Linked DNA regions of Homo sapiens. The protein of the gene in region 1 purifies or fractionates together with the protein of each later gene. This does not show direct contact. Each region holds a gene or a part of one and is shown in the gene's direction. Other genes may lie near its edges.

The links.
Region 2: the proteins of SLC39A12 (region 1) and ADPGK purify together in Homo sapiens (co-immunoprecipitation; 3 studies listed by BioGRID and IntAct, with this or other methods). This does not show direct contact.
Region 3: the proteins of SLC39A12 (region 1) and SQLE purify together in Homo sapiens (affinity purification with mass spectrometry; 3 studies listed by BioGRID and IntAct, with this or other methods). This does not show direct contact.
Region 4: the proteins of SLC39A12 (region 1) and APOOL purify together in Homo sapiens (affinity purification with mass spectrometry; 2 studies listed by BioGRID and IntAct, with this or other methods). This does not show direct contact.
Region 5: the proteins of SLC39A12 (region 1) and SLC29A1 purify together in Homo sapiens (affinity purification with mass spectrometry; 2 studies listed by BioGRID and IntAct, with this or other methods). This does not show direct contact.
Region 6: the proteins of SLC39A12 (region 1) and ACSL4 purify together in Homo sapiens (affinity purification with mass spectrometry; 3 studies listed by BioGRID and IntAct, with this or other methods). This does not show direct contact.
Region 7: the proteins of SLC39A12 (region 1) and MUL1 purify together in Homo sapiens (affinity purification with mass spectrometry; 3 studies listed by BioGRID and IntAct, with this or other methods). This does not show direct contact.

Annotation. Positions count from the first base shown.
Region 1 is NC_000010.11:18,000,418-18,003,917, forward strand, and holds part of SLC39A12 (zinc transporter ZIP12 isoform 1 precursor), read left to right. Parts: intron 1-249; coding exon 250-408; intron 409-1,368; exon of another isoform or gene 1,369-2,753; coding exon 2,754-2,941; exon of another isoform or gene 2,942-2,979; intron 2,980-3,500. UniProt on the Homo sapiens protein: Uniporter that promotes Zn(2+) import from the extracellular space to the cytoplasm across the cell membrane. The transport activity is temperature dependent. May play a role in neurulation and neurite extension.
Region 2 is NC_000015.10:72,777,259-72,780,758, reverse strand, and holds part of ADPGK (ADP-dependent glucokinase isoform 4 precursor), read left to right. Parts: intron 1-544; exon of another isoform or gene 545-562; intron 563-3,500. UniProt on the Homo sapiens protein: Catalyzes the phosphorylation of D-glucose to D-glucose 6-phosphate using ADP as the phosphate donor. GDP and CDP can replace ADP, but with reduced efficiency.
Region 3 is NC_000008.11:125,008,505-125,012,004, forward strand, and holds part of SQLE (squalene monooxygenase), read left to right. Parts: intron 1-466; coding exon 467-580; intron 581-667; coding exon 668-839; intron 840-3,032; coding exon 3,033-3,128; intron 3,129-3,500. UniProt on the Homo sapiens protein: Catalyzes the stereospecific oxidation of squalene to (S)-2,3-epoxysqualene, and is considered to be a rate-limiting enzyme in steroid biosynthesis.
Region 4 is NC_000023.11:85,090,877-85,093,815, forward strand, and holds the end of APOOL (MICOS complex subunit MIC27 precursor), read left to right. Parts: 3' UTR 1-1,514; coding exon of another isoform or gene 1,515-1,685; 3' UTR 1,686-2,308; coding exon of another isoform or gene 2,309-2,349; 3' UTR 2,350-2,439; downstream 2,440-2,939. Other genes in the region: SATL1 (spermidine/spermine N(1)-acetyltransferase-like protein 1), read right to left, coding at 1,515-1,685, 2,309-2,349. UniProt on the Homo sapiens protein: Component of the MICOS complex, a large protein complex of the mitochondrial inner membrane that plays crucial roles in the maintenance of crista junctions, inner membrane architecture, and formation of contact sites to the outer membrane.
Region 5 is NC_000006.12:44,226,595-44,230,094, forward strand, and holds part of SLC29A1 (equilibrative nucleoside transporter 1), read left to right. Parts: intron 1-415; exon of another isoform or gene 416-445; intron 446-665; coding exon of another isoform or gene 666-719; coding exon 720-748; intron 749-2,795; coding exon 2,796-2,877; intron 2,878-2,994; coding exon 2,995-3,197; intron 3,198-3,312; coding exon 3,313-3,452; intron 3,453-3,500. UniProt on the Homo sapiens protein: Uniporter involved in the facilitative transport of nucleosides and nucleobases, and contributes to maintaining their cellular homeostasis. Functions as a Na(+)-independent transporter.
Region 6 is NC_000023.11:109,677,758-109,681,257, reverse strand, and holds part of ACSL4 (long-chain-fatty-acid--CoA ligase 4), read left to right. Parts: intron 1-121; coding exon 122-260; intron 261-2,842; coding exon 2,843-2,993; intron 2,994-3,146; coding exon 3,147-3,270; intron 3,271-3,500. UniProt on the Homo sapiens protein: Catalyzes the conversion of long-chain fatty acids to their active form acyl-CoA for both synthesis of cellular lipids, and degradation via beta-oxidation. Preferentially activates arachidonate and eicosapentaenoate as substrates.
Region 7 is NC_000001.11:20,498,948-20,502,049, reverse strand, and holds the end of MUL1 (mitochondrial ubiquitin ligase activator of NFKB 1), read left to right. Parts: intron 1-630; coding exon 631-1,360; 3' UTR 1,361-2,602; downstream 2,603-3,102. UniProt on the Homo sapiens protein: Exhibits weak E3 ubiquitin-protein ligase activity. E3 ubiquitin ligases accept ubiquitin from an E2 ubiquitin-conjugating enzyme in the form of a thioester and then directly transfer the ubiquitin to targeted substrates.

The DNA of each region.
Region 1 (3,500 bases):
AAATCATTTATGCCAGCATGTAATTTATCTCATTAGACCAGTTAGCAAAACAGTGACCATACGTTTAAGTGTGTTGGTTATCACACTTGAATCTCTAGTCCTGACTTTTGCGGAAACAAAGTGATGTTATTTAATCAGATGGAATATAAGAATGTCAAGTGTAGGTGGGAAGGTTGGTTGGTTTTGAAGGATTTGGTGAAATATGTAGTGCTCTGTTAATGCTTCTTCTGTGTTTATTTGGTTCCTTAGGTAAAGCCATTAGCTTGTTAGCAATCATGATTCTGGTTGGGGACAGCCTGCATAATTTTGCAGATGGCCTAGCCATAGGAGCAGCCTTCTCATCATCATCCGAGTCAGGAGTGACCACTACGATTGCTATCTTGTGTCATGAAATCCCACATGAAATGGGTAAGTTCAACAATGGAATTACTGTTTCTGGCCTGTTGAGAAAGAAATAACATCTTTCCAGCTATGGTTTACTAGGATTCTTTTTCTAACCTATGACTTAAAGATGAATACTTTCCTTTTATAATTTATTTAAACCATAAGAAGAGGAGGACTAGAAAAATAACTCCTGTACCTTGGAATAAAATCCAGTTAAACTCCTTTATGATGTTTCCCAGGGCCAGAAATGACTCTATTTGGATTCCAGAGAATTCCATATGGGAGACAGTCATTCAGAGAAATATTTTAAAGAATTTTGATGGGGACTTTAAAATCTGCATATTAAATGTGAGAAAAATATTAGGAGGGGAACTTTATCCATCATGTCAGCACATGGGCCAGTAAGATAAAATAACATTTAAATTAAAACCGGCCGGGCGCAGTGGCTCACACCTGTAATCCCAGCACTTTGGGAGGCCGAGGCATGTGGATCACCTGAGGACAGGAGTTCAAGACCAGCCTGACCAACAGGGTAAAACCCCGTCTCTATTAAAAACAAAAACTTAGCCAGGTGTGGTGGCCCAGGCCTGTAACCCCAGCTACTTGGGAGGCTGAGGTGGGAGAATCGCTTGAACCCAGGAGGTGGAGGTTGCAGTGAGCTGAGACTGAGCCATTGCACTCCAGCCTGGGCAACAGAGTGAGACTCCATCTCAAAAAGAAAAACAAAAACAAAAACAAAAAACCAAACCATGGTTTCATCAACCTGACTTATACAAAATGTTTAAAGCCAAGCCTAGCATTGAAATGACAGGTGTGTGGTGGCAGATTCTCATAAATCTCTTTTTCTGGATAATCTTAGTTGCCCTGTAACTTTTTTTCTTTTAATTTTTGTGGGTACATAGTGGTTGTATGTATTAATGGAGTACATGCGATGTTTTGATACAGGTATGTAATGCGTAAGAATCATATCATGCAAAATTGGGTATCCATCCCCTCAAGCATTTATTGTTTGTGTTACAAACTATCCAATTATACTCTTTTAGTTATTTTTAAATGTACAAATTAAATTATGATGACTGTAGTCGTCCTGTTGTGCTATCAAATACTAGGTCTTATTCATTCTATTTTTTTTTTTTTTTTTGTAGTGATTAACCATCTTTACCTCACCTCCACCTTCCCCTACCACCCCACTACCCTTCCCAGCCTCTGGTAACCTTCTTCTATTCTTTAACTCCATGAATTCAATTGTTTTGATTTTTAGATCCCACAAATAAGTGAGAACAATATAGCCCTGTTCTTTGCCTCCCAGGACGCAAGATGGGTTAGAACAGACGTTTCTGAAACAGACCCAGAAATAGTAGAGGCTGGTCTGGCATAGGCTCCCAAGGGAGAGGGCTCTTCGCAGTCTCTCTGCTTCCACTTTCGCACCTACATTGCCCCTAGGAAACGCTTGCCCTCTTGTGCTTGGAGTCCGTTGCTCAAAGTCCTGACACTGACTCATTATTGACCTATCCTTCTTGGAGCAGTTTATCCAAGGTCCTCCCTGGGCTCATTAAAGTGCACCTGGTCTGGAAGCCATCCCCTATCTGTGGTCCTGAGTTTTGCTACTGTAACAGGGATGTAGCCCCCAGTCCTCAACCCAAAGCCACAGGGCAGTGTGACCGTCTGCAGCAGGCCAGCAGAGATGTTTCAAGCCCCGTTCATGGGAACAATTATGCAATGGAACTAGAAAACTGGGTCCCCAAGCTGTCTATTGAATTTTAGTCTCAATCCCCCAAACTAAGAAGTAGATGTTCTCAGATTTACTAACAGGTCAATCTTCTCTTGGAGGGAAGGCATGGAGAGAATGAGATCATTTTCCTATAATCATTTTCTAAAGGGAAAAATTTGTTTCCTAACCAACTTTTACAATGCTTTAAAAATCTCATATTAAGTAGTTTTCTCTCCCCACAGCAGTTTCTGCATAAGTAAATAATAAAAGCCCATATAGTGTCATGATTTCACCTGGCAAATTTCCAGGCCCAAAGATTTAGAAACCCTGGGACAGTGAGTGACTATTTTCCATTTATCTAAGTTGGAAATGTCAGAGGATATCAAGAACTCAAGAATATGTCACAGACCTCTCTGTAGATACAATCTTTAGGAGCAGCCAAAGGAATGGAACTCTTGAAATGCAACTTCCTAATAGTACGATGAATGGGCTATGAATTCTAGAGAAATATAGGAAAGCATTTTATTTACTGATCACTCAACTCTACCTATAAAATTGGTTCCAGTGCTGACATTCGAAATAGCTAATAGTGCGTTACTTTAGCAAAGGCGTCTTCCATTAAATGATAATTATATTTTCCTTTCCTCTTAAACTTCAGGAGACTTTGCCGTGCTCTTAAGCTCTGGACTTTCTATGAAGACTGCCATCCTGATGAATTTTATAAGCTCCCTAACTGCCTTCATGGGATTATACATTGGCCTTTCCGTGTCAGCTGATCCATGTGTTCAAGACTGGATCTTCACAGTCACTGCTGGGATGTTCTTATATTTATCCTTGGTTGAAATGGTAAGCTTGGTGGCTTTTCTATTTGATTTTTCTAAGCACTGAAAATGTAAAACAGAGAAAAAAAACAGTAAAAATGGAAGGATAAATGAGTAGAACAGAAGAATTTATAAAACAATATAAACCATTAAGGAATATTCTTTGTACTCCAAGAAAGTGCATTCTGGGCAGAAAGAACATAATTTGGGTACAGAAAATACTGACATTTTCTGTAGTGTTAAAGTGACAGGTGTGTGATAGCAGTTGCATGTAAGACTTTTTTCTTTTAGTGATTTTAAGTGGAAAGAATGAAATGTTCATAATCTTCAAAAAGTAATCATCAGCTCATTCGATTCCAGCTTTGTACCTATATATGATGCCTGTATTTCCAGTTGAAAATGAAAAGTTCTGTCAATCAGCCAGCTATTTTATTTATACAATGCGAAAGTTCTGTTAAATAGCCAGCTATTTTATTTATACAATGGAAAATAATTCAACTGAATTTGTCATTGAATTAAATCACTGTTTGACTTAATTAACCAAATGTGTTTTTTAAATAATGATTACGTCTTTGAAGTTTGAA
Region 2 (3,500 bases), on another chromosome or scaffold:
CACCCAGGCTGGCGTGTGCAGTGGCATGTTCAAGCTCACTGTGGCCTTGACCTGTCATGCTCAGTGTCCCGAGTAGCTGGAACTACAGGCATGTACCACCACACCCGGCTAATTTTTATATTCTTGGTAGGGACAGGATTTGCCAAGTTGCTCAGGCTGGTCTTCAACTACTGGGATCAGGCCTTGGCCTCCCATCTTGGCCTCTGAAAGTGCTGGAATTACAGCTGTGATTCCACACCCAGCCCAGTATTAAATATCTTATAACAACTAATATGGTTAGGCTTTGTGTCCCCACTCAAATCTCATCTTGAATTGTAATCCCCATAAGCTAATCAAGGGAGAGACCAGGTGGAGGTAATTGAATCATGGGGGCGGTTCCCCCATTCTGTTCTCCTGATAGTGAGTTCGTTCTCATGAGATCCTTTGGTTTTATAAGGGGCTCTTCCCTGCTATTCACTCGGCACGGCTCCTTCCTGACACCTTAAGAAGAAGGTGCCTTGCTTCCCCTTCACCTTCCACCATGAATGTAAGTTTCCTGAGGCCTTCCCAGCCATGCTGAACTGTAAGTCAATTAAACCTCTTTCCTTTATAAATTACCCAGTCCCGGGCAATTCATTATAGCATTATGAAAATTGACTAATGCAACAACTTTATGAGGGAGGCAGATAACAGATATTGTCACCGAGTCTTCTCACATTGATTTATTTGCCCAAGATCTTGTAGCTATCAAGTGCCAGAGGAGCAATTGAAGCCTGGTCTTTCCCATTTCTGGTTCCTTGTTGATGCCATGTTGTTGCCATTAAGAGAGATTTAAGAAAAACAAGTTTCAGAAGATAAATTGGATTTCAGAGGAGGAGAAATGTACATACATTGTTATGGGATTTCAGATGAAGCTTCTCTGTCAGCTACTGAAAATGAGAAGCTGGTTTTTAGGAATATATTGAGAAACAGGATTGCAAATTTTGGAGACACTGGCACTTAGGTTGAAGCCAGAGACTGGATAGGATCACCCAGGAAGAGAAGAGGAGAAGGTAAAAATGGTAAAGGTGGAATTCTGGGAGGCACTAGCCCTTAAATGCTAGTGCATTAAGGGGCTGGTGAAAAGGGGTCAAAGAAGTAAAGGATAGGAGGAGTTTTAAGGCGTTTCTAGGAAACTTCCCCTGCTTCTAAATCAGACTCTGGTACCTATTCATTGGTTTAAAAATGATGAAACCCGGCAGGCATGGTGGCTCACGCCTGTAATCCCAGCACTTTGGGAGGCTGAGGTGGGTGGATCACCTGAGGTCAGGAGTTCGAGACCAGCTTGACCAACATGGAGAAACCCCATCTCTACTAAAAATAAAAAAATTAGGCGTGGTGATGCATTTCTGTAATCCCAGCTTCTCAGGAGGCTGAGGCAGGAGAATCGCTTCAACCCAGGAGGCAGAGGTTGCGGTGAGCCGAGATCGCGCCGTTGCATTCCAGCCTGGGCAACAAGAGTGAGACTCTATCTCAAAAAAAAAAAAAAAAAAAAACCCTCATGCTAATATTTATTGCCCCTGGAACTGGCTTCACCCTGAACCTTGAAACATATCTTGGTCTTCTCCCCTGTATGAATTCTCCATTCTAGCTAGATAATTCTTTATTGTATCCAAACACAAGGTTAATCCCTTCATGTACAACTTTGCTTGTGTATACTTCCTACGTGGGTTTCAGTATCATCAGATAAATCTGGGTTTGAATTTCAGCTCTGCCTGTCTGTGGGCTTTGGAATGTTAGTTAATCCATGGCCTCACTCTTCTCAGCTGAAAGCAGTGATGACTAATTAGCGATCTTACCGCATTTTGCAAATAGGTTTAATCTATCTGAAAATGCCTGCCTAGCGTGGGGTGCTTCTTAAAGATCAGCCGCCTTTCTTCTATCTAGATGCAGGAGCTAGGGTTCAGCACAGGGACCACTGCCCTAGCCATTTTTCCCCCGCCTCTTTACAGTTCTATGTCTTAACAATTACGATTAGCTCTTATAACAGCTGATGCACATAATGTAAAGCTAGAGAAAACCTTAGAAAACATTTTACAGGTGATGAAACAGAAGGGAGGAGATAGGAAACATCGTCTTTGCCTTAGAGGCACTTATGGTCTAGAAGGGAGAACTGTGCCCTCTTTGCCAGCCCCCCAACCCATTTTGACATTCAGCATCTGTTGTCTTGACCTATTTTCTAGTTGTTTCATCTGTGTTTTCTCCAAAATCACAGTCATCTAATATACATTTTTTACTGAAGTGTGAGCTTCTGCTTGCATGTCAGATGAGCATAATTTTGTCTTCTGATTCTTTAACTGTGTCTCCCTTTATTTCCCCTTGACAATACAGCCCCTTAGGTAATATGCTTTTTACATTTTGGGATGCTATTGAGTTGAGAAAGTGCAGAGAAAGATTCTTATTCTGGTTAAAGTATTATAAAACAGAACAAGAAAGTACATGTAAAGTACTTGTTTGGCATCCGGCATGTAGTAGATGTTCAGTGTTTTTTTGAGACAGGGTCTTGCTCTCTCACCCAGGCTGAAGAGCAGTGGTGCCATCTTGGTTCACTGCAACCTCTGCCTCCCAGGCTCAAGTGATCCTCCTGCCTCAGCTTCCTGAGTAGCTGGGGCTACAGGTGTGCACCACCACACCCAGGTAATTTTTGTATTTTTTGTAGAGACGGGGTCTTGCTATATTGCTCAGGCTGGTCTGGAACTCCTAGGCTCAAGTGATCCACCCGCCTTGGCCTCCCAAAGTGCTGGGGTTACAAGTGTGAGCCACCGTGCTCAGCCTGGTTTTTTTTAATTATAAAAAGTTATCAAGTAAACTGTGAACCAGTCTGAAAAACTGGTTATTTTCCCCCGGTATTCCTGGTATGATTAGGTGAGGGATGGAAAATGTTCCATGATAGTGATATTTTGTAACTCAAAATTAGTTCTGTTGGGTTTTGCCTTGTGTTACAAAATATACTGAACAGCTTTCCCCATTCTCATTTTAAGGAGTCAGACTGTTTAAAATCTCAGCAGTACTAGATATGGAGAGTGGGGTGTTTATAGTTTTGTTTTGTTTTGTTTTGTTTTTGAGATGGAGTCTTGCTCTGTTGCCCAGGCTGGAGTACCATGGCACGATCTCAGCTCACTGCAACCTCCACCTCCCGGGTTCAAGCGATTCTCCTGCCTCAGCCTCCCAAGTAGCTGGGATTACAGGTGTCCACCACCACACCCAGCTAATTTTTGTGTTTTCATTAGAGATGGAGTTTCACCATCTTGGCCAGGCTGGTCTCAAACTCCTGACCTCATGATCCACCTGCCTCGGTCTCCCAAAGTGCTGGGATTACAGGCTTGAGGGTGTTTATAGTTTTTGAAGTAGTTATTTTCAAAGACAGGTTTCCCTCCATTTCTGAACCTTTACTCTTCAGACTCGGGACCCAAATCCATTTGGATACAATTTTTTTAGACTGGGCTGTCTGGAGGAAATGGTATCCCTCCTTACTCAAGCCC
Region 3 (3,500 bases), on another chromosome or scaffold:
TTTCTCTGCTCATACTGTAGTATTATAAATACATGTAGTCATTTGTACAAAAATTCTTCTAAGCCCTAGCTGCTGACTAAAAGCACTATATGAAGTTAGGAAATTTTAGAATGAAAGAATCTGGCTAGTCCCTTGAATTTGTAATGAGATTGACTGCTCTGTGTTACATGCCTGCCTTGTAGTTGTTTCCCCCATTGTCTGTCAAAGTGGAGAGTAATCCCAGATGGTTTGCATGGGAGGGCTACAAAGGGAGATGATCCTCAGGGACTCAGAGGAAGTATCTAAACACTGGTCATGCGTTATCTGAAGCCCACGTAACAGTTTCTTCAATAGTATTATCTTCAACTACTCTCTATAATGCTATCTGATAATATATCTAAATCTCTTCACGCACATTTTTTAAGAATGGCTTTTTTTACTGTGTGTTTCTGACTACTAAACTGAGTAGTCTTCATTTCTGTTATAGGAACTCCATGCTCCACTGACTGTTGTTGCAGATGGGCTTTTCTCCAAGTTCAGGAAAAGCCTGGTCTCCAATAAAGTTTCTGTATCATCTCATTTTGTTGGCTTTCTTATGAAGGTACTGTAGGAGTGTGTTATTGTAATTTCAATAAAAGAAACTTGAAATTTGAAAATTATTAAAACATTTTCTTTTTATTTGTTTTAGAATGCACCACAGTTTAAAGCAAATCATGCTGAACTTATTTTAGCTAACCCGAGTCCAGTTCTCATCTACCAGATTTCATCCAGTGAAACTCGAGTACTTGTTGACATTAGAGGAGAAATGCCAAGGAATTTAAGAGAATACATGGTTGAAAAAATTTACCCACAAATACCTGGTAAGAAATAGCATCTTCAGTTCTTACAAAGGCTGTGTCTAAAATAGGCCAGAGATAAGGATGGCAGGTGAAACATTCATCCAGTCAACCAGATATTCTGGAACTGAACTATTTAAACTAGCACTTAAAAACAGCAAAACAAACTCCCAAATTAATAAAAAAAAGTTTCGGGCCGGGCACAGTAGGTCATGCCTGTAATCCCACCACTTTGGGAGGCTGAGGTGGGCAGATCACCTGAGGTTGGGAGTTCAAGACCAGCCTGACCAACATGGAGAAACCCCGTCTCTACTAAAAATACAAAATTAGCCGAGTGTGGTGGTGCATGCCTGTAATCCCAGCTACTCAGGAGGCTGAGGCAGAAGAATCGCTTGAACGGGAGGCAGAGGTTGTAGTGAGCCGAGATCGTGCCATTGCACTCCAGCCTGGGCAACAAGAGCGAAACTCCGTCTCAAAAAAAAAAAAAAGTTTTGATATGTTTTTGTCACATAATAGCATAGTTTTTAGAATAATTGTTTTTATTGGCATATATGGTATTTTTAAAGGTAGTCTCTGGACACGAATCTGACTCTGAATTCTTTATCTCTTATACCTAAATATTTTTGTGCTTGGTTTTTGTAGTAATGACAGCTACCATTTCTTGAATGCTTACTATAAAGTGTTTAGCAAACATAATTTCATTTAATCTATGTAACCACTCTGTGAGGTAGGCATTATCATTATTCTCATTTTACAGATGGGAGAACTAAGGTTCAGAGAGATTAGTTAGCTCCTCCAAGTATAAACTATTAGTAATGGCAGAACCAGGGTTGATATCAGGTCTGTCTGGCTCATATGTGCCTGTTTGAACAGACATGTCCTGTCCGCAGAATGTGAGAATTGTAAGGGATCTTCAGGATCATGTTAGTTTTGAGTTGAATATAAAGGCTTCATGAGATTTAGATAGCTTTGTAAAAACATTAATAAAAATTACTTTTTCACAAATCTAAAGTTTTCATGGTACAGTTTTTAGGATCTTTTTTTGAGAATGGGATGATATAGGAAAGAAAAGTAAAAAAAATTTAAGAATTTTGATAAAATTGAAGGGAAACCCTCATTGTCAATTATGATATGATTAGAGTAATAGGAAACTATTTTTGGTATGAGTACATTTTGTTTAAATATTCCGTTTTTTTCAAGTTATTTTTTAAACTAAGTGAAACCACTTTAGTAACAAATTATTAACAGAAATGAAGTGAAATGAAGTGGGCAAACTTAGATTTTAAATAATGACATTTTCAACATGTACATGGAAACATTTCAATAAATTTTCATTTAGTTAAGCCACTTTTGAAGCTTTCAGATGGGGAAATTATGAATATTTATGAAAAGGGTCATCCATTACCTGATATTTTTAGCATTTATTTTTCTTTTATTGTAAATGTGGTGGTTTTTCTTTTTTTTTTCTTTTTTCCAATCCAGAGGTTAATTGGAGTAGAGTGCCCTGAAATTATGGAGAGAAACCATTGGTAGGTTTATATTAATATTAGTTAGATTACCAAAATTCTACTCCTTAATATGAATGGAATAATTTTTAACAGAGGCTTCTGCTCCTCTATTCCCAGATCACACTGGGAATTGTATGACAGTTCATTTTCTATATAAGTAGCACAGAAATTTAAAGCTTGTTTGGAAGTATCTCAGAGATGAGCTGATCAAACCATTTCATTTTTATAGATGAAGAAATTGAAGCTCAGAGAGGTAGGGCTGGCCTCGAATTCCTTTTCTAGTGTACATACCCTCCTGCTGTTTGTGAATTGGTAGTGTATTTCATCTGATTATTACAAGAATATATTGATTATAATACATTAAATATTAAATATGACAGTAGTCTGTTAACATTTGGAAGAAAGGTAGGTGGTTTTCTCCCTGTTTCATTTCATCTGAATTTGCCTCATTGTTTTTTCATTCAGTTGTATGTATGTTTATATTAATGTTCTCTTAGATTCCTTAGTCATTCCTTGGCATTAACAGCTAAGTGCTTAATGAATAATTTTATTAATGAAATAATTAGTTCTTGATTTATCACAAGGGATATATGTAACAACCATAACAGATGTATAGTAGGCATTTGTTTATACTTGATAAGAAAATATGTGATACTTTGAAATTGAAGTGTTATGACCCATTTCTTTGGGTTGGTGGGATTTATTGCAGATCACCTGAAAGAACCATTCTTAGAAGCCACTGACAATTCTCATCTGAGGTCCATGCCAGCAAGCTTCCTTCCTCCTTCATCAGTGAAGAAACGAGGTATTATTTTTTGGGCTTATTTTATAAAGGAATCAGTATTCCAAATGACAAATATATGATTAAATTTATACTGTTACGAATAACTTCTGGGACAGATAGTTTGTCACTGTGGATTAGTGCATTATTAATACCAAAATTAGTTTTATGATCTATTTAGTTGTTAACATTGAGTGTATACAAGTATTGTGCTAGTCAGGGAAACAACAGGTAAAAAACTGACCTTGACCTAGAGAAGGCAATTTTCTACTTAGGAATGTAGACAGATAATTTTACAACACTGTTGATAAATAAAACCCACAGATTCAGTGTCAAGAAGTGTGCAGAGCAGGGAGGGAAGCTTGTGAAATGGGAGGGGTAGTTAGGGAGGACGTT
Region 4 (2,939 bases), on another chromosome or scaffold:
TCAAGCGATCCTCCCACCTCAGCCAACCAGACATGAGTGACTGTGCTCAGCCTTTTTTAAAAAAATGAAGGTATTTGGTATGGCCGGGTATGGTGGCTCACACCTATAATCCCAGCACTTTGGGAGGCCAAGGTGGGTGAATCACCTGAGGTCAGGAGTTTGAGACCAGCCTGACCAACATAGTGAAACCCTGTCTCTACTAAAAACACGCAAAAAGTGCAAAATTAGCTAGGCGTGGTGGCTCATGCCTGTAATTCCAGCTACTTGGGAGGCTGAGGCAGGAGAATCACTTGAATCCGGGAGGTGGAGGCTGCAGTGAGCCGAGATCGTGCCATTGCACTTCAGCCTGGGCACAAGAACAAAACTCAGTCTCAAAAAATAAATAATAAAAAATAAAGGTATATAATATGTCTTAGATTTGATGAAATATGAGTGTGTTTGAGATCTGATCCAAGGTTTTAAAAAATTCATTTCAAATCCTGGAGATAAATTCTGAGGAGCTTACTTATGAAAAACTAGCAAGTGATAGCTGGTATTTACAGATATGGTACTTTACACAATTTATGTAATTAATATTTTCTCACAGACAAGGTTCCTTGTGGATATCACTGAATAATTTTTGTGTAGTTTCTATGCCCATGAAGTGCCTGGTAGGTAGTAGGAACTCACACGTTCTGCTATGCTGGTTGCAGCACAGGACACAAAAGTTAGAATTATTTCAAAGGACTTATACTCTACTAGGAAAGAGAGAAACATAGAAATATAGTGTTGTATGTGGTATCTTCCCTAAGATAAGTACAACCAAAGAGCTATGGATGTTCAGAGATAGAATGTAGTACTGGGATGATGTCAAGGAGGCAGTGGTACTTAAGCTGCTCAAGGTAGGGAAGCAGTTTACTTGCTAGTTTTTCATAAGTAAGCTCTTCAGAATTTATCTCCAGTATTTGAAATGAATTTTTTTAAACCTCAGATCTGAATATATTCAAACACCCATATTTCATCAAATCTAAGGCATATCATATACCTTTAATTTAAAAAAAAATGCTGAGCAGAGTTGCTTATGTCTGGGAGGCTGAAGTGGGAGGATTGCTTGAGGCCAAAAGTTTGAGACCAGCCTGAGCAACATAGCAAGATCCTGCCTCTAAAAACAAACAAACAAAAAATGCTGCCAGTTGATCATTACATTTATCCCGACATCAGATATGTCAAATTGTGAAAAGCACCTTAATTTTGATGAAATATGATAGGTAAAAAATAGCGCAAAGCTAAGTATAAGTGACTTTTAAATTATCTGCTCTTTTGGATTATCACTACTGCTACTAGCCGTTAGAATATTGGTTTGGATAATGGAAAGTTGACTAGAGCTACAAAATCTGTTTCAAAATAAAAGATCTGCTCAAACAAGAATGTGATGATCACTTGCTGTATTGTACAACAAAGTCAAACTGCTGTTAGACTCAGGTGACAGTCAAATGTTGGAGGCTGTGTTGGGATGAGTTGTTACAAAGCCTCTTTCATTCTTCCCATGCCATGTCCAGGAGTTCTTCTCTGTTAAACCTGAAGAGATGCCAGCCCTCCTCAGAGGAAAGGTCTAAAGCCCCTCGACTAGTATAGTAGTTGATAGAAGCCTGGTTCCAAATGACGACAAGAAAGTGCATGCAGTTACATTGAGTTGTGATGGCTATCTGTTTAAAAACAAACAAGCAAATATTACTTTCATTTGAAAGTATAATCTTCGTTAACACATATATTTTATTGAAGGTCTACTCTATGCAAGACACTATGTGTGAATAATACTTCCAAATATAGTAGTTACCTTTTGAACTTTTCTATAGCTGTAAAAAGAAAAAAGTCTCACTGTTCTGAGCTTTAAAGCCCTCTTTAAAATCTCAAAACTGATTTGCAAAGCCTTTATCATACAGAAAAGGTGTACCTAAAAGAACACATGTTCTCATATGTTTCCAAAATACAAGAAGATCTTGCTTTTATAGTCTTGTAATATTCATACTGTGAGCCTGTGTTTTTGAATAAAAATGCTTTCTAATCTCCCTCCTTCTTACTTTCCCTTGATAGCAAAAAGGGTGTATAGTGTGGTTGTGGATTATATATAAATCAATTTTAATTGACTATAATTCATATACTGTATATGATCATCTGATTTGAAAATCCAGTTTAATTTGGGTAGAAATTTGAAGTATATGTTGGGGTTATGTTCAAATGGTGAGATTAATGATTTAATTTATGCCCTGTGAATATTTATTAAGAAAAGGTTAATGTATAGAATATCAATACTAATTGTAATACATACCTGACTTAGCCTCTTCAGCATTTCAGCTCCAATACCTAGGCCTTTTAAATAGACAATGCAAAGTGAAAACTGCAAATTTCACTTAACTTGTTATTTGCTTTAGTTTAAAATAAATAATATCTAAAACTCTGTATCTGTTTTTTGTATATTATTAATAGCTTCTGGAAACACAACTCGTGAATGCTTTCATATCCCTTTTTCCTAATTGGAATGACGTACCAAAGGTCATAGAAGAGTTTGGGTTTATTTTAAAGATCAGTGAAGAAGTGAGTCTCTGCCACTATTGTCTTATAACGGTATATTTCTTAGCTGTTTTTACTGAAAACCACCTAAAATGTGAAAGCATTTTTTAAAGATAAAAGTATAGCTGTGTGGCCTATACTCACACGATGGCTCACACATGTGATGGCACGATGGCTCACACCTGTAATCCCAGCACTTTGGGAGGCCAAGGCAGGAGGATCACTTGAGCCCAGGAGTTTGAGACCAGCCTGGGCAACACAGACCCTGTTTCTCCAAAAAATAAAGAATTAGCTGGGTGCTGTGGCACATGCCTGTAGCCCCAGCTACTTGGGAGGCTGAGGTGGGAGGATTGCTTGAGTGTAGGAGGTTGAGGTTACAATGAGTCGTG
Region 5 (3,500 bases), on another chromosome or scaffold:
AAGAAAGGTTAAGGTGCCAACAGCAGAGAGACTGGAATCTGGGTTGCCTTCAGGAGAGGACAGCCCCACTCTAGCCATGAATCCAGGGGCTCCCCAGGGAGGGTGGAGAGACCAGACTTGCAGAGAGGGGCCTGGGGAGCCTCTGGTTTGACCTCAGTCATCATCGATGTTGTCGCAGCTGCTGCAGATCTGCCTGTTCCGTGTCCTTCCTCCTCCTCCCCCGACCTCTTTGCTGTGTCTCCTCCATTTGTCTCCCTCCTTCCCTTGTCATCACTGTCCCTGACCCCTCTCGTCCTCTTGCCTGCCTTCTTTGACTGTCTTTCCCTCCCTCCCATCATCTTTCCTCCTCCTTCCCTCCTGCTCTCCACCCTCCTGTTTCCCAGCTTATAAACTGCTTCGGCTGCTGGATAAAAATAGCGGTGGCAGCGGCCAGGCCGGGAGCCAGGTAGAGTCTGAGCAGGCAGGGGGGCCGCGCAGGACTGGCCTGCTGGGCCAGGGGGCTGGGTGGGGGTCAAGTTGAGTCGTCCTGAGGGGCAGGGTGCAGAGGGGGTCTTACTGGACTCCTCCACTGGCCTGTTCTGTCAGCCCTGCCCCCTCTCCCCCTAAGAGCCTGAGGAGGCCTATGGCAGGGCCAAGACAGGGCCTCACACTGTTCCTGCCCCCAGCAGGCCCCTGAGGGAGGGAGCTGTCAGCCAGGGAAAACCGAGAACACCATCACCATGACAACCAGTCACCAGCCTCAGGACAGGTAAGGGGTAAGGGGCTGGGCTGTGGATCCAGGGAATGGGTTTTCAGGGAGCTGGGTGTGGTGTCCTTTGGAATTGGGGGTTGCCATTGCTGGCTGGCCTTCCAGCCAGGTAGCTATGAGTCAGGTCTGCATCAGGGGTGGGGACCCCGTGTGCCTTGGCTGGGTGCTGGCTGGGGTGTCTGCGGGAAGGGCAGGGTGCGTGGGCAGCAGTCCTTCCCTGGCCTGTCTGTGTTTCCACTGTTGCTCTCCAGCCAGTTAGCGGCTTTCGGCTCCTCCCGCCACCACTGTGGGGAGATACTTGGCTGCACCCCTCCTTCCAATGCACATCTGGCAGAACTGCCCTGGGGCCTCTGCCTTAGATGACCTGGCCCACCCTGGTTCTTGATCTGATCTTCCTCTCAATTCCCTGCCTCTGGAGCCTGTGAACTCCCAGTCAAGTTAGACTTGCAGTTATGACTGTGAATATGTATTTTGGAAGAAGAGGCTGTAGCTTAATTCAATTTCTCAAAGGGATCTGGGACCCAAGAAGGCTGAGGAAGTGATCCCTGAGATCCAAAGCTCCTTCAAAGCGTCAGGCTCTGTCCTGCCCTCCAACTCAGGCCCCAGAAACCCATCACGTCTGCCCTACCCACCCCATCTCCCTCCTGTGCCAAAGGCTATGAAACTAGGCCACTTTTGCCTGTGGGGGCTTTGAGCATGTAGCTTAATCTCTCTGGGACTGTTTTTCCACCTGTAAAATAAGCTAAAAGTATCTACTTCCCAGGAAGTGGATCTAGAAGTAAGGGAATTTAAGGAGGCATGGCAATAAGTCCAGGCCCCAGGTTGCTTCCCTGCCTCCTGTGCTCCATTCCCAGGCTGCCTGCCCATTCTGTCCCCACCTCCGCTCTCCTGTGGGCAGTTCCCTGAAGGCCTCGCCGGCTCCATTTGCCTTATTGCACAGCTCAGTCATTTCCCAGCGTACTCCCCCCAACCCCGATCCTCTGTCCTATGTGACTTTGGGAGTTTTTCCTTCTGCTCTGGGCCTCCGAACCAAGCCTTTAGCTTCTCCAAGGGAAGCATGTATGTGAGGGGGTTGGGGGGGCTGCAGTTGCATTAACTCGGACCTGCTCACGTGGTGTGCTCACCACGCCATCCCTGTATGAGGCCTGCCAGCGGTCCAGGCTCCTGCACTCTGGCCAGGCCTGTCTTCTCACTGCCTTGGGCTTTATCCCTGCCATCTCTGAAGAGAGCTGGTGTTGGCTCTGGGGAGGGTGTGCAAACCCAACTGGAGATCTACATGGGCCGGGCTGGGGTTACTCAGCTTTCAGGCAAGGCCTATCTGGGAGAAGCTGGCGTGACCCGGAAGGGCCTTGAGGTATAGGGCTTGGGGCATTGCCCTGGCCAAAGGTGGACAGTCCTTATTTACACCCTGAGGCCCAGATGGCCTCCAGTGGCCCCATACCTCCTGGCCTGCCCTGGGTGGTATGAACTACAAAGTTCTATTTGGCCAGGAAGAAAATGGCTCTAAGGCCCTCTCTTCACAGCGGCCCTGAGGCACCCTGCCCACCTGCCCTGTAGGTCCAGAATAGTATGGGAGTTTCTTAACTTCAGAATCCTCTCTGGGGAGTAACACAGTCCCTGACCAGACAGCATAATTACTTCCAGCCTGCCTGGTGGGAGTGGAAGACACTTGCTGCTTGCTTTCTCACTCATCCACCCACCCCCTGCCCTTCGGCAGGATTTCCAAAACCATCTCCGGATGTGTGGGTCACACTGGTTCCCAGCCTGCAGAGTCCCCCGAGCCTTCCAGGGCTGATAACCATGGTCCTGTCAGCCATGCCATTCAGTCCTATGACCCTGACCCCATCCCCACCCCAAATTCCAACGAGCAATGTACCCTTTTCTCCCCCCACACCCATAAGAGGACACATGCAAACGGACACAAACACAGACGCCCTGTGCCCTGGGACCTAGAGAGACTGACAACGGACAGGGGCTTTCCTGGGGCTCATTGTGGAGTGGGGCAGGATGGTGCGTCATTTGGCCCATCTTTCCTCCTCCATTGCAGATACAAAGCTGTCTGGCTTATCTTCTTCATGCTGGGTCTGGGAACGCTGCTCCCGTGGAATTTTTTCATGACGGCCACTCAGGTGAGGCTGGAGGGACTGGGCTCCATGGGGCAGTGCCCACTGTGCTTGCAGGATCTGACTCTGTGCTGGTAGGCACAGGGAAAGAGATTTCAACACTCCTCTCTGCAACCCCTGCAGTATTTCACAAACCGCCTGGACATGTCCCAGAATGTGTCCTTGGTCACTGCTGAACTGAGCAAGGACGCCCAGGCGTCAGCCGCCCCTGCAGCACCCTTGCCTGAGCGGAACTCTCTCAGTGCCATCTTCAACAATGTCATGACCCTATGTGCCATGCTGCCCCTGCTGTTATTCACCTACCTCAACTCCTTCCTGCATCAGAGGTGAGTGCCCACCCCCTCCCCAGCCCCCAGCCTGACCCTCACTGTGTCCTGCACCCCCTTGGCTGAGCCCCAGCTTTGCCCACTTGTCTCTGCCACCCTTGGCCTCTCCCGGCAGGATCCCCCAGTCCGTACGGATCCTGGGCAGCCTGGTGGCCATCCTGCTGGTGTTTCTGATCACTGCCATCCTGGTGAAGGTGCAGCTGGATGCTCTGCCCTTCTTTGTCATCACCATGATCAAGATCGTGCTCATTAATTGTAAGCTGGGCCAGGAGGGGGCCTATGGGAGGAGGCATGCCCAACTAC
Region 6 (3,500 bases), on another chromosome or scaffold:
GAAATTTTCTTTTAATTCATGGTTGCGTTGTCTGGCAGGACAGAAAAATATTCATTCAGTAAGTGAATTTTTGTTGCAGGCTTAAGTTTAATAGCTGTTTTTTTTTCTTTCTGCTCAACAGACTGCATTGTTAGATATCAGTTGTGTTAAACATATCATTTATGTGGACAATAAGGCTATCAATAAAGCAGAGTACCCTGAAGGATTTGAGATTCACAGCATGCAATCAGTAGAAGAGTTGGGATCTAACCCAGAAAACTGTAAGTAAAGCAGTAAAAACAATTTTATTTACCTATTCCAAGTTTGTTATTTTGGTAGGTTAGGGAAACAAATGACATGAGTAAATCCACAAAAGTTCTTTGACTGAAAAAAAAAAGTTCAAAAATCTTTAAAAACCATCAAGACCATATATGATTAAGATTTTCCCTCCATTTCTCCTCAAAAAAAATAAGTTAGTAAATTTCACTAAGTGGTTGAGATGTAATCTGTGGTTCAGACTTCATGGCAGTTGCTGCCAAATGTTTCTTCATTTTTTAAATAACCCACTATAACCTTCCAATTTGGGCCTCATAAAAGAAAAATATTTCAGGCCTTCCATTCAGTAAACTTTCTGAAATAAATGCTTAATGCTAGTTATCTTAAGGATGTTTCAGAGGATGCAAAGCTGTTTACCAAGATTAATGCTTGGATTTATTTTACCACTGAGGTGGTAGTTGGTATTTCATTTGAAACAAGTAAGTGTACCTTGTAGCAAAATGTCAGTTGGCCATCAGGGCAGAGAGTTGAGGAAATTAATACTCCATTTGAAGAGTTTTCTTATTATGTTTAATGCGATGGTCAAAATACCATACTATAATGAGAAAAGGATTCATTTTTGCAGGAGAAAATGTTGGTCGAACCTCTACTCAGCTTCTGAACATTTTACCATTAGAGAATGAGCATGCGTTTATAATAACAGGTGTTATTATACACATCTGCCATGTGTCCAGAATGGCAGAGAGTCAGATTTTACCCTGCTTGCCGGCAAACAGATGAGCCTGCAAAACTTCCTGGTGCCATAGACTTTTGGGTCTGAGATGAGGGACAGTTTTTTACTCACAACAATAGCAGTAGCCAGAGTATCATATCAGCATTTGTGTCATAAGAGAGGAACTCTGAGCTTAAAGAGCCTGAATATCTTATTATCTTATTGTACTGGACAGTAAGCATGCCTGCTGTTTGCTCTGGGGAGAGACACTATCTCTGTGCAAATATCCTTGTAAAGATAGTCTGGAACAAAGTCAATGTCTCTGCTTGCAAGATGTGCAGAACATGAGACCCATAGAGAATTGTTTTTCTACACTAGGTTGACCCTGTAAGATTGGGATAAACTTGACTGAGAAGTCCTGATTGGTAGGGATCAGTTACAGTTCTGCTGATTGACCACAAAGGGTGTTGGCAGCAAGCTAAGGGGTCAGCAGTCTTCATAATTTTGTGTGAGCAATAATGTAATAGGCCACATATCCCACTTAGTTCTACTCATGTCTGCAATAGATAGGATACATATGTTTTTGTGGTACAGACAGTTATTGTGATGCCACTTTTTTGCATATTTACTTAAAAGTGGGCAGAAGCAAAGTATCACATGTGCTTAGATTAAGAAGAATTTAGCTACTGCTGTTGCTTTGGTTAATCATCAGAGGAAATATGCAGTCCTTATTTGCTTGGTTTATAAACTATGACTATATCTTTAAAAAGCATTAAAATTAGCCAGTTTAAGTGTAACTATCTTTGTTTCAGTGGTATAGCTCACTGTTTTAAAAAAATGTTATTTTAACTGGTATATAAAAATGTAAATAATTTGTGTAAAGATTTTTAAATGTGATAATCCTGTTAAACTTGTATTTCATTCTGATGATATATATGTGGCTTCTTAGCCATTTTGGTATATTCTCGGAAGGAAAAGTGGTTACTAGGCTAGCACTATACACTGTCTTGAAAGTGGAAGCTCCAGGGTTCTGTTTAAAACTTATCACCTTCAAATGTTAGCATTGAAGTCACCTTAAAGATCAGATCCAGTGGTTTTCAATCAGGGGCATATATGAGAATCACTTGTGGAGCTTTGTTCTATCCCAGACATATTGAATCTGAATTTTCAGAAAGGGGGTTCAGAAATAATATTTTATTTAAGTTCTGCACGTGATTCTGATACCCACTAGTGGTTAGTAACCACAATCTGTCCAGCTGTCTTATTTTAGAGATGAGAAACTGAGGCCTAAGAAGTTTATACACATACTCTGTCCTCCTGATACTCCAAAGTCCCAGAAATCTTTCCACAACATTGCTCTGTATACAACACTGTGGAGAGGCAATGCACAGACAGAGATTAGGTTAAACATCCAGAAAATGGGCCAAATTGAGTCCAAAATGCTCACTGTAATCAGAATTTGATAAACATTTTTGTTTTCTAGCCCAGGCTGGAGCACAATGGTATGACCATAGCTCACCATAGCCTCAACCTGCTAGGCTCACCCAGTCCTCCTGCCTTATCTTCTTGAGTAGCAAGGACTGCAGGTGCATGCCACTGCATCCGGCTAACTTTTTTAGTTTTTGTAGCGACAGAGTCTTGCCATGTTGGCCAGGCTGGTCTCGAAATCCAGGGCTCAAGTGATCCTCCCACCTTGGCCTCTCAAAGTACTAGGATTACAGGCATGAGCCACCTCACCCAGCTCGTTTTGATGATTTAAAGCAAATACTGTCTATTGATAGCTTATCGTTATGCAAAATCTAAATATCCTATTATTCTTTAGTAATTTAACTTTTGAACTGAAGTAAATGTGATATTTTTCATTCATTCATTTAGTGGGCATTCCTCCAAGTAGACCAACGCCTTCAGACATGGCCATTGTTATGTATACTAGTGGTTCTACTGGCCGACCTAAGGGAGTGATGATGCATCATAGCAATTTGATAGCTGGAATGACAGGCCAGTGTGAAAGAATACCTGGACTGGGGTAAGATAATTCTTTAACTTTCTTCTTAGAAATCAGAGTTCATGTTCAGCATTCTCTAAACTCAATCTATATTAAAATGATAAAGCTCTTGGTATTTCTAACTTCAAATGCCTTTTCAAGAATGGTTAAAATATTTCTCTTATTTTGTTTTAGACCGAAGGACACATATATTGGCTACTTGCCTTTGGCTCATGTGCTAGAACTGACAGCAGAGATATCTTGCTTTACCTATGGCTGCAGGATTGGATATTCTTCTCCGCTTACACTCTCTGACCAGGTGACAAACTTTTCAGTATATTGGCATGATCGTATGATGCTGCATGGTTTGGCTGAGAACATATTACTAGGACTCGAGATATTTTAATTCAGCTAAAGCTTTCTCCTTGACCTCAAAATAGCTTCCATGAACAATATGTAGCTATAGGAGATTACCCTGTAGATTTGTTAGCATTGCTTTAGCTATATATTTTAAAATTATTTTTTTTTTCTTTTCTTTTGCTCTGTCAC
Region 7 (3,102 bases), on another chromosome or scaffold:
TGGCCAAAACCCTTGCAGTTGGTCTATTCAAATGCTGGGGTCCTGGGTGCTGTTGCCGTGACTTCAGCTTCTCCTGAGACAGGTTGAAGCCCAGTCTCTTAATGCAGGTCATATTCTTGTGTGTAGCCTGTGGGCCTCCTATGTCGGAATCACCGAGGCATCTTGTTGAAATGCAGATTTCTGAGCTCCCTTCAGTCCCTGAAGTGGATAAGTCAGTCCCTGGTGACTTATCCAACCAGAATTTCCAGGATCAGGGACCTGGAATCTGTTGTTAGGCACACTGAAGTTTGAGAACCACTGAATCAGTGATTTCAGTATTTCCTAAAATGCTTTTGTGCCATCATATGAAATATCAGTTTTCCAACTGGTCCTAGTGAGTTTTGTTTTAGATGTTTGTTTTACAGTGGAAAGGGAAATGATAGTCTGTGGCGGTTATTTGTTGCCCACTGATATCGCCCCAGGACCTACAAATGGAGCCTCCTTGTTAGGAGGCAACTGGAGATAGTGATCTTACTGTCTTCTTCCAGTTACTTCAGACCATATGCTGTCCTCCACATTTAGTTGATCTCCAGTTCTGCCTGGGTGTTTGCTGTTTGCTACCCTGTATCTTTAGTTCTCTTATTCTTCTAGGAATGATTGCTCAAAGATCATTCATCAGAGGACCAACACAGTGCCCTTTGACCTGGTGCCCCACGAGGATGGCGTGGATGTGGCTGTGCGAGTGCTGAAGCCCCTGGACTCAGTGGATCTGGGTCTAGAGACTGTGTATGAGAAGTTCCACCCCTCGATTCAGTCCTTCACCGATGTCATCGGCCACTACATCAGCGGTGAGCGGCCCAAAGGCATCCAAGAGACCGAGGAGATGCTGAAGGTGGGGGCCACCCTCACAGGGGTTGGCGAACTGGTCCTGGACAACAACTCTGTCCGCCTGCAGCCGCCCAAACAAGGCATGCAGTACTATCTAAGCAGCCAGGACTTCGACAGCCTGCTGCAGAGGCAGGAGTCGAGCGTCAGGCTCTGGAAGGTGCTGGCGCTGGTTTTTGGCTTTGCCACATGTGCCACCCTCTTCTTCATTCTCCGGAAGCAGTATCTGCAGCGGCAGGAGCGCCTGCGCCTCAAGCAGATGCAGGAGGAGTTCCAGGAGCATGAGGCCCAGCTGCTGAGCCGAGCCAAGCCTGAGGACAGGGAGAGTCTGAAGAGCGCCTGTGTAGTGTGTCTGAGCAGCTTCAAGTCCTGCGTCTTTCTGGAGTGTGGGCACGTTTGTTCCTGCACCGAGTGCTACCGCGCCTTGCCAGAGCCCAAGAAGTGCCCTATCTGCAGACAGGCGATCACCCGGGTGATACCCCTGTACAACAGCTAATAGTTTGGAAGCCGCACAGCTTGACCTGGAAGCACCCCTGCCCCCTTTTCAGGGATTTTTATCTCGAGGCCTTTGGAGGAGCAGTGGTGGGGGTAGCTGTCACCTCCAGGTATGATTGAGGGAGGAATTGGGTAGAAACTCTCCAGACCCATGCCTCCAATGGCAGGATGCTGCCTTTCCCACCTGAGAGGGGACCCTGTCCATGTGCAGCCTCATCAGAGCCTCACCCTGGGAGGATGCCGTGGCGTCTCCTCCCAGGAGCCAGATCAGTGCGAGTGTGACTGAAAATGCCTCATCACTTAAGCACCAAAGCCAGTGATCAGCAGCTCTTCTGTTCCTGTGTCTTCTGTTTTTTTCTGGTGAATCGTTGCTTGCTGTGGACTTGGTGGAGGACTCAGAGGGGAGGAAAGGCTGGGCCCCGAGTACAACGGATGCCTTGGGTGCTGCCTCCGAAGAGACTCTGCCGCAGCTTTTCTTCTTTTTCCTCATGCCCCGGGAAACAGTCTTTCTTCAGAATTGTCAGGCTGGGCAGGTCAACTTGTGTTCCTTTCCCCTCACCTGCTTGCCTCCTTAACGCCTGCACGTGTGTGTAGAGGACAAAAGAAAGTGAAGTCAGCACATCCGCTTCTGCCCAGATGGTCGGGGCCCCGGGCAACAGATTGAAGAGAGATCATGTGAAGGGCAGTTGGTCAGGCAGGCCTCCTGGTTTCGCCACTGGCCCTGATTTGAACTCCTGCCACTTGGGAGAGCTCGGGGTGGTCCCTGGTTTTCCCTCCTGGAGAATGAGGCGCAGAGGCCTCGCCTCCTGAAGGACGCAGTGTGGATGCCACTGGCCTAGTGTCCTGGCCTCACAGCTTCCTTGCAAGGCTGTCACAAGGAAAAGCAGCCGGCTGGCACCCTGAGCATATGCCCTCTTGGGGCTCCCTCATCCAGCCCGTCGCAGCTTTGACATCTTGGTGTACTCATGTCGCTTCTCCTTGTGTTACCCCCTCCCAGTATTACCATTTGCCCCTCACCTGCCCTTGGTGAGCCTTTTAGTGCAAGACAGATGGGGCTGTTTTCCCCCACCTCTGAGTAGTTGGAGGTCACATACACAGCTCTTTTTTTATTGCCCTTTTCTGCCTCTGAATGTTCATCTCTCGTCCTCCTTTGTGCAGGCGAGGAAGGGGTGCCCTCAGGGGCCGACACTAGTATGATGCAGTGTCCAGTGTGAACAGCAGAAATTAAACATGTTGCAACCAAGTGCTAGCCTGTTGCTTTGTTAACAGGAGTTAAATGGCTAAGCCTAAGTGTCCCCAGGATGGGATTGAATCCCTGCCACAATGGAGTGAAAGGTGGGGGAGTTTGAGGCCTCTGTGTTCTTTTCCTCGGCTATAGTGGTTTGGGGCTCCCCCAGATGGGGTGATGCAGAGGCCGGCCGGGATGCCTGCCCCCTGGGGAGGAATCTGGACAGCCCACCCGTGGGTCATATCTGGCCTTGCTGACCATCTTTGAAGTCTGTCCCGACAGCCTACAAATCAGGGCAGTGAGATTTCACCTGCTGGGAGAATGGGATGGGGATGGGGTGCTGGGGGACAGCAGAGAGGAAATGAGCATTTAGCAATACTGTGTATGAGGTACTGTGCCGTGTGCTGTTTCAAACTCATTTCAGAGTGAGTTCATCCTCACAAAACCCCTGCAGGCCGAGTCCCGGTGTCTGTGCTGTACAGGTGAGGAAGTAGGCCCAGAGGGTACATTCACTG